3 linked regions of the Homo sapiens genome follow. The protein of the gene in region 1 purifies or fractionates together with the protein of each later gene. This does not show direct contact. Each region holds a gene or a part of one and is shown on either strand. Other genes may lie near its edges. The genes, in order: UNC45B, CTCFL and C1D.

The links.
Region 2: the proteins of UNC45B (region 1) and CTCFL purify together in Homo sapiens (affinity purification with a luminescence readout; one large-scale study listed by IntAct). This does not show direct contact.
Region 3: the proteins of UNC45B (region 1) and C1D purify together in Homo sapiens (co-immunoprecipitation; one large-scale study listed by IntAct). This does not show direct contact.

What each region holds. Positions count from the first base shown.
Region 1 is NC_000017.11:35,171,732-35,175,386, reverse strand, and holds part of UNC45B (protein unc-45 homolog B), read right to left. Parts: intron 1,146-3,655; coding exon 1,018-1,145; intron 1-1,017. UniProt on the Homo sapiens protein: Acts as a co-chaperone for HSP90 and is required for proper folding of the myosin motor domain. Plays a role in sarcomere formation during muscle cell development. Is necessary for normal early lens development.
Region 2 is NC_000020.11:57,504,540-57,508,194, forward strand, and holds part of CTCFL (transcriptional repressor CTCFL), read right to left. Parts: intron 3,338-3,655; coding exon of another isoform or gene 3,326-3,337; exon of another isoform or gene 3,305-3,325; coding exon of another isoform or gene 3,257-3,304; exon of another isoform or gene 3,254-3,256; coding exon of another isoform or gene 3,044-3,253; exon of another isoform or gene 2,467-3,043; intron 1-2,466. UniProt on the Homo sapiens protein: Testis-specific DNA binding protein responsible for insulator function, nuclear architecture and transcriptional control, which probably acts by recruiting epigenetic chromatin modifiers.
Region 3 is NC_000002.12:68,040,485-68,043,327, reverse strand, and holds the end of C1D (nuclear nucleic acid-binding protein C1D), read left to right. Parts: intron 1-274; coding exon 275-439; 3' UTR 440-2,198; downstream 2,199-2,843. UniProt on the Homo sapiens protein: Plays a role in the recruitment of the RNA exosome complex to pre-rRNA to mediate the 3'-5' end processing of the 5.8S rRNA; this function may include MPHOSPH6.

The sequences.
Region 1 (3,655 bases):
GCTTGTGCTCCAATCAGCCCTTTATGCTTCCCACATCATGGCATCCATTGCATCGGACTGTAGCTGTGATCTTGCCTGCCTCCCTGGCCAGGCTGCACACAGACTGTGCCTTTAATCTCTGAGAACAAGGTAACAAGAAGGAACAGTGGCCTCCTTTCTCCTGATACAAACTTCCACCTGTGATGACCTGCCCAACATACCACTTCTCTTCCTTCCTTTCCTTCTTTCCCTCTTTCTTTCCTTCTCCTTCCTTCCTTCCTTTCCTTTCCCTTTCTTTCTTTTCTTTTTTCTTTCTTTCTCTTTCTTTCTTTCTTTCTTTCTTTCTTCTTTCCTTTCTTTCTTTCCTTCTTTCCTCTCTCTCCTTCCTTCCCTCCTTTCTTTCTTCCCTCCTTCCTTCCCTCCCTCCTTTCTTCCTCTTTCTTTCTCTTTCTTTTTCTTTCTTTCTTTTTCTTTCTTTCTCCTTCCTCCCTTCTTCTTTTCCCTTCCCTCCTTCCTTTTTTCCTTCCGCCATCCCTTCCTTTCTCTCTCTCTCTCTCTTTCTCTCTTTCTTTATTTCTCTTTTGTATAGAGACAGGATCTTGCTCTGTTACCCAGGCTGGAGTGCAGTAGCACCATCATCATTCACTGCAGCCCTGAATTCCTGGGCTTAAGTGATCCTCCTGCCTCAGCCTCCCAAGTAGCTGGCAGTACAGGTGCACACCACCGTGCCAGGCTAATTTAAAATTTTTTTGTACAGATGGGGTCTCAATATGTTTCCCAAGCTAGTCTTGAATTCCTGGGCTCAAGCAATCCTCCCACCTGGGCCTCCCAAAGCCCTGGGATTACAGGCATGAGCCACCACCCCTGGTCCCATGTCACTTTTCAAAGCTGATCCCCTCAGACCTTTCTCCAGGCTTTCCCAATAGTTTATCTCCTCATTTAGGCCCCCACCATTTCTATCTCCCTGCCCAGTGTGCTGCACTCCAGGACCCTCGGCCCCCAGCCCTAGTTCCAAGCCTTGGCCCACTGCAGCCCCACCTGGCCAGCAGCTCCTTGGTCTGGTCAGTGAGGATGGCACTATCTGCTTTCACCATGCAAGCCAGGGCAGAGATGACACCCGCCTTCAGAAGCCGCTTCACCCGCATGTCTATAAAGTCCTTCTTGTCCTGAGGAGATGAAAAGATGGCAATGTGGGAGGGTCCTGGGTGCCAGGCCAATCGGTATTGGAACCAAAGATGGTGCATTTCTGAATTCTTGGGGTTGGTTGAATAATGGCCTCCAAAGATGTCCATGGCCTGGCCAGGCACAGTGGCTCATGCCTGTAATCCCAGCACTTTGGGAGGCTGAGGCGGGCGGACCACGAGGTTAGGAGATCAAGACCATCCTGGCTAACACGGTAAAACCCTGTCTCTACTGAAAATACAAAAAATGAGCCAGGCGTGGTGGCGGGCACCTGTAGTCCCAGCTGCTCAGGAGGCTGAGGCAGGAGAATGGCATGAACCCGGGGGCAGAGCTTGCAGTGAGCCGAGATCGCACCACTGCACTCCAGCCTGGGCGACACAGCGAGACTCTGTATAAAAAAAAAAAAAAAAATCCATGGCCTAATCTCTGGAACCTGTGAACGTGGGACCTTACATGGCAAAAGGGATTTTGCAGACACGATTAAGTTAAGGATTTTGAGATGAGGGGGTAAGCCTAGATTTCTGTGTGGGCCCAATATAATCACCAGGATCTTTATAAGAGGGAGGCAGGAAGATCAGAGTTAGTACTAGGAGATGTAACAATGGAATGGAAGTGAGGTCAGAGTGGTTCAAGGTCACCAGCCAAAGCATGTAGGTGGCCTCTAGAAGCTGAAAAAGGCAACAAAATGATTCTCCCTTAGAGCCTCCCAAAGAAACCAGCCCTGCTAACACCTTGACTTTAGCCGAGTGAGACTCATTTTAGGACTCTTGACCTCCAGAACTATAAGATTTTTAAAACCGGGCCAGGCGTGGTGGCTCCCGCCTGTAATTCCAGCACTTTGGGAGGCTGAGGTGGGTGGACCACTTGAGCCCAGGAGTTCGAGACCAGCCTGGGCAACATGGCGAAACCCCGTCTCTACTAAAAATACAAAAATTAGCTGGGCATGGTGGAGCGTGTCTATAATCCCAGCTACTCAGGAGGCTGAAGCAGGAGAATTGCTTGAGCCCAAGAGGCGGAGGTTGCAGTGAGCCAAGATTGCACCACTGCACTCCGCCTGGGCGACAGAGGGAGACTCAGTCTCAAAAAAAAAAAAAAAAAAAGTATAAAAATTGCGTTTTAGGCCACAGTGCGTGTGGCAATGTGTTCTAGAAACAATAGGAAACTAAGACACTTCTCCAGATTCCCTCTTCCCAAGCAACTGCCAAGGGGTATACAGCACGCCTTGCTGTCGTGTGTGATTGTCTCTCCTCTCTTCTTCCTTGCCTTACCTAATCCCAAGACAGAGCCTGAGGAGCTGATACCGTAGAAAACCAGTCCCAAAGATTCTCTCATTCACAGAGGAATGAAATAAAAGACGGATAATCCAAAAGACTAAATGATGCGTATATTGTTTTTCTTGGAGAAGGCTGAGGTGGGAGTGGAGGTAGAGAGAGGGTATAGGCAGGAAAGGACACAGTGGATGAAGCCGCCATAACAATGGATTGGGTTTGCTGGAAACCCAAAGTCAACCCAGGGTTAAAGAGTCCCTACAGATAATCCTCAGAGTGAGGAGTGGTGGGGAAGGGGCTGACAACCCTGGGCAAGCCCTGGAAGCCACACTGGAACTTCACAGCCACAGCACATGCTCTGCACCCTTGCCTGGATGAAACATCATGCAGCTTTCAAAAATGATTCAGAGGCCAGGTGTGGTGGCTCATGCCTGGATTCCCAACGCTTTAGGAGGCCGAGGTGGGTGGGTCACTTGAGGTCAGGAGTTTGAGACCAGCCTGACCAATATGGTGAAACCCTGTTTCTACTGAAAACACAAAATTAGCCGGGCATGGTGGTGCATGCCTGGAATTCCAGCTACTTGAGAGACTGAGGCAGGAGAATCACTTGAACCTGGGAGGCAGAGGTTGCATTGAGCCGAGATCTCACCACTGCACTCCAGCCTGGGTGACAGAGCAAGACTCTGTCTCAAAAAATAAATAAATAAAATAAAAATGATTCAGAGAATGAGATGGCAATGTGAAAAACATATTTTTCCAAAATTGGGCACAAAATGATAAATATATTCTAATTATAACTGTGAAAGGAAAAAAGATACATAGAAAAAAAGCCTCTGGTAGGTAACATAACATCAAAATGCCAACAGCAGTCATGTGGAGATGACGTAATCATGAGTGGTTATTTTCTTTTCCCCACATTTTAACTCGTTTTGCAGCATGATTATATTACTTTGATCATTAAAAAAATCTAAATGATTTTATTGGCTGGCAATATCTTGCATATATTCTTAAACAAATCACACACAAATCATATCTTCATGTGCAGGGAATTGTTGGAGAGGGTTCCAGGGGATCTGTGACTTCTGGGCTAATGCTGACCATGCCTCTCCTCTCATGATTCCTACTTAGCACCCATGTCACAAAATCCAGAAATCTGAGAAAATCAAATTGTTATCTGTTGGAGACATGAAATAAAACTGTCTTTTATCCATAAAATCAACAACACA
Region 2 (3,655 bases), on another chromosome or scaffold:
CCAAAGTGCTGAGATTACAGGCGTGAGCCACCGCACTGGCCAAGATAACATCCTAACATCCGTCCCTGAGTTGTTTTTTAGAAACCTGGCTCTTTACCAAACAGGTCCACCGGCAGGGAGACCTAAGATAAGGAGGACCTGGGGGCTGAAATCTGACCACTGCTAAATTTGTTCTAATTTTGTTCTTAATTTCCTCCTGAGAGGCCTAGAGGAGGTCATGCCTCGTGAACCAGAGCTAATACTCTTTTCTCAAAATTTTAAACAAAACTTCTCTTCCTTAACCAATTGCAAACCAGTCTCTGAATCTACCTACAACCTGTAAGCCCTTGCTGCAAGATATCCTGCCCTTTTAGGGCAAGGTATCCTCCATGCGCTGATTTATAATTTTGTCTGTAGCTTCTGCTTCCTTGGCACCCTGCAAATAAACTCCTGCTGCAAACTGTGGTGTGGATATCTGGTCTTACTGCACCAGGCAAGCAGACCCCAGTTTGGTTCTATAACAAGAGTCGGCTTCCCCAAAGGCACTGAAAAATGCACAGTTAAAGAGATGGCCTTTGGGAAAACTGTGGGTAGCATGCACCTTTGATAATCTTGTGCAAAAATGATGACTTTTTAAAGGTGACCCTTTCTGTTGTGCTTAGCTCTAGCCAAAAGCTAGCTTGCTTTAAGTATTTTTTTTTAATAATAGAAATCAATGAGAAGACAAAATTTATTTATTTATTTATTTATTTTTTGAGACGGAGTCTTGCTCTTTCGTCTAGGCTGGAGTGCAGTGGCACGATCTCTGCTCACTGCAAGCTCCGCCTCCCGGGTTCATGCCATTCTCCTGCCTCAGCCTCCCGAGTAGCTGGGACTACAGGCATGTGCCACCACGCCCGGCTAATTTTTTGTATTTTTCAGTAGAGATGGGGTTTCACCATGTTAGCCAGGATGGTCTCGATCTCCTGACCTCGTGATCCGCCCGCCTCGGCCTCCCAAAATGCTGGGATTACAGGCGTGAGCCACCGCGCCCGGCCTTAAAATTTATTTTTCTAGAATGTTTCTACTCTCTAAAGTGAAGACTGATGTTGAACCAAAAATTCAATACATCAGTCAATTTCATAACCATCAACTACATACCATAAAGATTTTACTTTTCTGTTAGCTACTCTCTTGAAGCTACTGAGCAGAGGTCATGGGTGGCAGTTATGAAACTGTATACAACATTCAGGAATAAAAGCCAAAGACTTCCCCTAGTCAAGCCTACTCGTGACATAGTCTCATCTAACAAACACTCAGGATAATCTTAAGTCAGAAAATTTTCACTTTTTGAAAAGGTCCTAGGCAAAAGTAAAAAAACTGGCAACAGGTGTTGAAATTTGCAAATTATGCGAAACATCCCGCCTGATTCCCATTTTGACTTTCCCACTGTGCTTAACAGGACTGTCTGCGTTTATGATGGAAGAAGGAAGAATTTACACATAATGGGGGTGATGGAACAGGTTGTTTAAACTTCTTCCATTTTATGCTTAGACACTGGGGTTGGCAAACGACAACCAGTGGGTCAAATCTGGCTGCCAACTGTTTGTGAAAGCAAGTTTTACTGGAACACAGCCATGTCTATTCATTTACACACTGCATCCACAGCTGCTTCCATGACACAAGGGCAGACTCAAGAAGTCGTGGCAGAAACTGATTTGCGTTGCCCTGGTGATTAATGACGCTACGCTTACTGGCCACCTGTATGTCTTCTTTGGAGAAAGGTCTATTTAGATACTTTAACTGTTTTGTTTTGTTTTTTTCCTGAGACAGTCTCGCTCTGTTGCCCAGGCTGGACTGTAGTGGCACAGTCTCAGCTCACTGCAACCTCCACCTCCTGGGTTCAAGCAATTCTCCTGCCTCAGCCTCCTGAGCAGCTAGGATTACAGGCATGTGCCACCATGCCCAGCTAATTTTTGTATTTGTAGTAGAGATGGGGTTTCATCATTTTGGCCAGGCTGGTCTTGAACTGCTGACCTTGTGATCCACCTGCCTCTGCCTCCCAAAGTGCTGGGATTACAGGTGTGAACCACCGCGCCTGGCCTAGATACTTTACCTGTTTTTCATTGGGTATCTGTCTATTTACTGAGTTATAAGAGTTCTTTTTATATTTTAGACACAAGTCCAAATATGCTTTCTTGAATCGGAATTTCAAAAATTTTATGTTCTGAGGGACTGCATGAGGCAGACTTGTTCTTTTCTCTACATTTTTATTTCTTGCACCAAAGAGCAGTTTTTTTCTCTTTAGAATTCTACTCGTTAATTTTAACTCTTCACAATTTTTGCATGAGCAATGGTGTTTTGGGAGCACTGCCACAGCTTTTATTTGAAATTTTAAACTAATAGGGTTGACATTCCAGAACTATCCCACTGTGCTACTCAGAAAAACACAACTACACTACTGTTTTAAGAAGAAATATTTTTAAAAAAATAGTCAACTTCAGGAAATTCAACTTTTATAAAACTTTTATAAAGTTAGGCTGAAGCCTACATGGTCCAAGGATCTAGCTAGCCATGTGCAGTGGTTTTTAAATGTCCTGAAATTCTTTGATGCTGTTCCTTTCAAAAGAAACTTCATTCCCCACTCGAGTGTGGGTGGGACTTCATGGTTCATTTCTTGTGACTAGAATGTGCCACTTTTTTTTTTTTTTTGAGACAGAGTCTTGCTCTGTCGCCCAGGCTGGAGGCCAGTGGCACAATCTCAGCTCACTGCAACCTCTGTCTCCTGGGTTCAAGTGATCCTCCCGTCCCAACCACCCAAGTAGCTGGGATTACAAGCGTGCACTACCACGCCTAGCTATTTTCTTTTTTTTTTTTTAAAGTAGAGACAGGGTTTCACCATGTTGGCCAGGCTGGTCTTGAGCTCCTGGCCTCAAGTTATCCACCTGCCTTGGCCTCCCGAAGTACTGGGATTACAGGTGTGAGCCCCCACAGCTGGCTGTTGTGCCGCTTTTAGGACTAGACTGCAAAAGGCACCATGGCTTCCTACTTGCACTCTCTCACTTGCTCTGAGTCAGGAGGACACTCAAGCAGCCCTGCAGAGAGGTCCCTGTAGCAAGGAACTGAGGCCGGTGCCAGCAGTTGTGTGGCGGAGCTGTCCTGGAAGTGGATCCTCTGGCCCCAGTCCAGCCTTCGGATGATGCAGCCCTGGCGGACATCCTGACTGCAGCCTCAGGAGTGGCCCTGAGCCAGGACCACCCAGTTCAGCCACTTCCGAGTTCCCAACCCAGAGAATCTGTCAGGTGATAAATGTTTGTGGTTTTAAGCCACTCCATTTTGAGGTAATCTGTCATACAGAAATAGATAACTAATACAACACCTAAAAGAATAAAACCATAAATGTATTGCTTAGTCCAGTACCAACAGCACTATTCTTTTTTTTTTAATTAAAAAAGTTATTTTAGAGACAGGGTCTCACTCTGTCTTTGAGGCCAGAGTGCAGTGGTGCGATCGTGACTCACTGTAGCCTCCAACTCCTGGGCTCAAGTGGTCCTCCTGTCTCAGCCTCCTGAGCAGCTAGGCCTACAGGGGTGCACCACCACAACCAGCTAATTTTTTTGGAGGGATGGGGGTCTCCCTGTGTTGCCCAGGCTGATCTCAAACTCCTGGCCTCAAGTAATCCTCCCACCTTGGCCTC
Region 3 (2,843 bases), on another chromosome or scaffold:
ATTTCTGGAGTAATGTCTTAGTGTGATTCTAACTCTTTGGAAACAGAAGACTTCTGAAATGACTTTTTAACATCTGTCTTTCCCCACCCTCCGACTATGAACTCCAGGCAAGCAGGGAGCGTATTTATCCTATTCATTTGCATTTCCTAGCACCATGCACTTTAATAGGCAATAAATACATATATGTTGAATTTAACCAAGGTGTACAGTATAATAAAATTCAGTGGTGGCGAATAGCTTAGTAAATCTATTGCCTTTGTTTTTTATCTTTAAGGAAAGAATCAGAGTATATATGAACAGAGTCAAGGAAATAACAGACAAGAAAAAGGCTGGCAAGCTGGACAGAGGTGCAGCTTCAAGATTTGTAAAAAATGCCCTCTGGGAACCAAAATCGAAAAATGCATCAAAAGTTGCCAATAAAGGAAAAAGTAAAAGTTAACTTTTTGGTTTTGATGTACACATATTCAAAAAGTACATCTTCCCCCCCCCCCCCCCCCCCGCAAAATAATTCTGTGGCAGGGCAAGGTTTAAATGTGTTTCTTATTAATATGTAAATTCACAGTAAATATGTAAAGCTAAATACTTTCCTCTCCAAAGATCATTATCTTTATTGATTAGCACTGAGGATTTTAACATTGTGATATATTATATATTTATAATTTACCATCTCTTGATGAGACTCTTATTTCTTTATATAGGTCAGTCTTGCAAGTACCATTTTATAAGCAGCTGTGAAATTTAAGTGAAATGTTCTTTGTAAACATTTGTACTATTTTAAATGAATAATGACCTTATGAAGTATGCTATCTGTAGGCTGAAATTATAGGTACATCTGTTTTCACTATATGATATTAAGAAAGCGTGAAATGACTTAAATGTTCATTTTTTTCTGTATAGATACTTTATCATGTTTTCATGATTTTAGGAATTACTGCTTTGTTGATATTCAAAGTGTGAAACTAAAACTTTATGGTTGTACTTTAATTCTTGGCATGTTGCCTCTATGTCCCATTTAAAATAAAATACATTCTCATTAACTTTAGATGGGAAATAAGGTTGTATGTTGATGGATGAATTTTGGCATGATGACTGTACTCTCAATAAAGGCTGAAAATGTTGTATAACTGACCTGTGTATTTTTATCTTTTGAGTAAATTTGCCTTCCAAATTAGGAAGATAGGTTTTAGAAGTCATCACAAATAGAGAAATTCTTGAGTTTTTGTTCCTGATGCATGGTGTCCACAGTTCTTTTCATCTCATTTTTTTTCAGATTTTTTTTATTTCATGTTTTTGAGGCTGTATCAAGTACATACAAGTGTTTTGGAACAACTTCTTAAGTTACCTAATGCCACTTAAGCAGATGAGAAGTCCAAAGGAGATTACACTGTGTTTGTATTGTGGTTTATTTTTCTGGAATATTAGTTACAGAGAGTACTACATAGTAAACCTTTTTTTAAATGTCTAAGCCCATGAATTTTAATTATATGCCCTTAATGCTTTCAGTGTTTGAATCCATATCATTATGTGTAGGAATGCCAAGTATAGTAAAGTACTTTAATTTTTGAAAAAGGAGTTGTTAAAATTTTCTGTGTGATTAATTCTCCATAAGTAACCTTGAATAAATGGATTTCTTGATTTATGATAGCAGATATTGGAAATGGTCTTAAAATGTAATGGATTTTGTAAAGCATGTTGAACTCTTTCTATGACACATGAAGAGGAAGTCACTGATAGACGCAGAAGGTCTTTTCTGTCTCTGATGTCAGTTTTTGAAGTGGAAGAACATTAGTGAACATTTATAGTTATTTTACTCCTTTTTTTGCCTTTGTCTCCAAATTTCTAGCTATTTTTAAAAATAACCTCTTCATGAGAGAAATGTGTTACTGTTAAGATCAAGTGTAGTGTACCTGTCTTTGTGTTATTTATTGCAAAGAAATTTATTTGGATTTCTGTATATTTTCTAATTTCATAAAAGAAAAACAGCTTAAATGAAAAATGTTATACAATTGCAGAAAATCATTATTGGTTTTAGCTAAGTTATTGGTTTATGAAAGTGCACCTCTACGTTCTGTTAAATTGTGTAACTTTTAAGTGAGTAATTCTTTCATTATTAGGTAGAAATAAAAGTTTGAGTATATTCCATTTTATTATGTATAATTTTAAATACTTAGCACGTAATAAGGAGCTGAATGGCTGTAGTGCATTGGGTTGCTTATTTGCTTGTTGTTTGTTTATTCTTTTGACAAATATACTTAATGACATTTATATTGCCAGATACAGTGCTAGGTGCAACGTTCCAAAGACGATAACTACGGCCTTTATCCTATCTTTATAAGGTGTTAAGAAAAAAATAGTCTTTTTATTCAATTCAGTTTCTCAGAGTTATGGGAAAATTTATGACAAATTGTGCTCATTAACCTTATTCAGAACCATAAAGGGTGATGTGTGTGGTTGATCTATTTGACTATGGTGCAGTTCTTGTTAAAATAGTTTGTTCCACATGATAGTCTGCTCTAAGTTTAGATGTTAATTACATCTTTTATTAATCTCTTTGGGAATTAACAAGTTGGAGAAGTTGCATCTATAGATATTTTTAAGATTAGAATTATAGTCTATTAATCTTGTACTAAATAATGAGATCTTGCATTTTAATATTATTTTAAGTACAAATTTTTTCTTGTTCATAGTTGTAAGGTGGGAAATCCTTTTAGTAAAACAGAATATGTTGAGTGAAAAATTGAAGCTTGAATTATGTTACATTCCTGGAATTAGGAAGTTATGTCAGGTTGATTAGTTTTAAGATACCCTGTAGATTAAAAAATCCTTCTACTTAGCAATTAGAA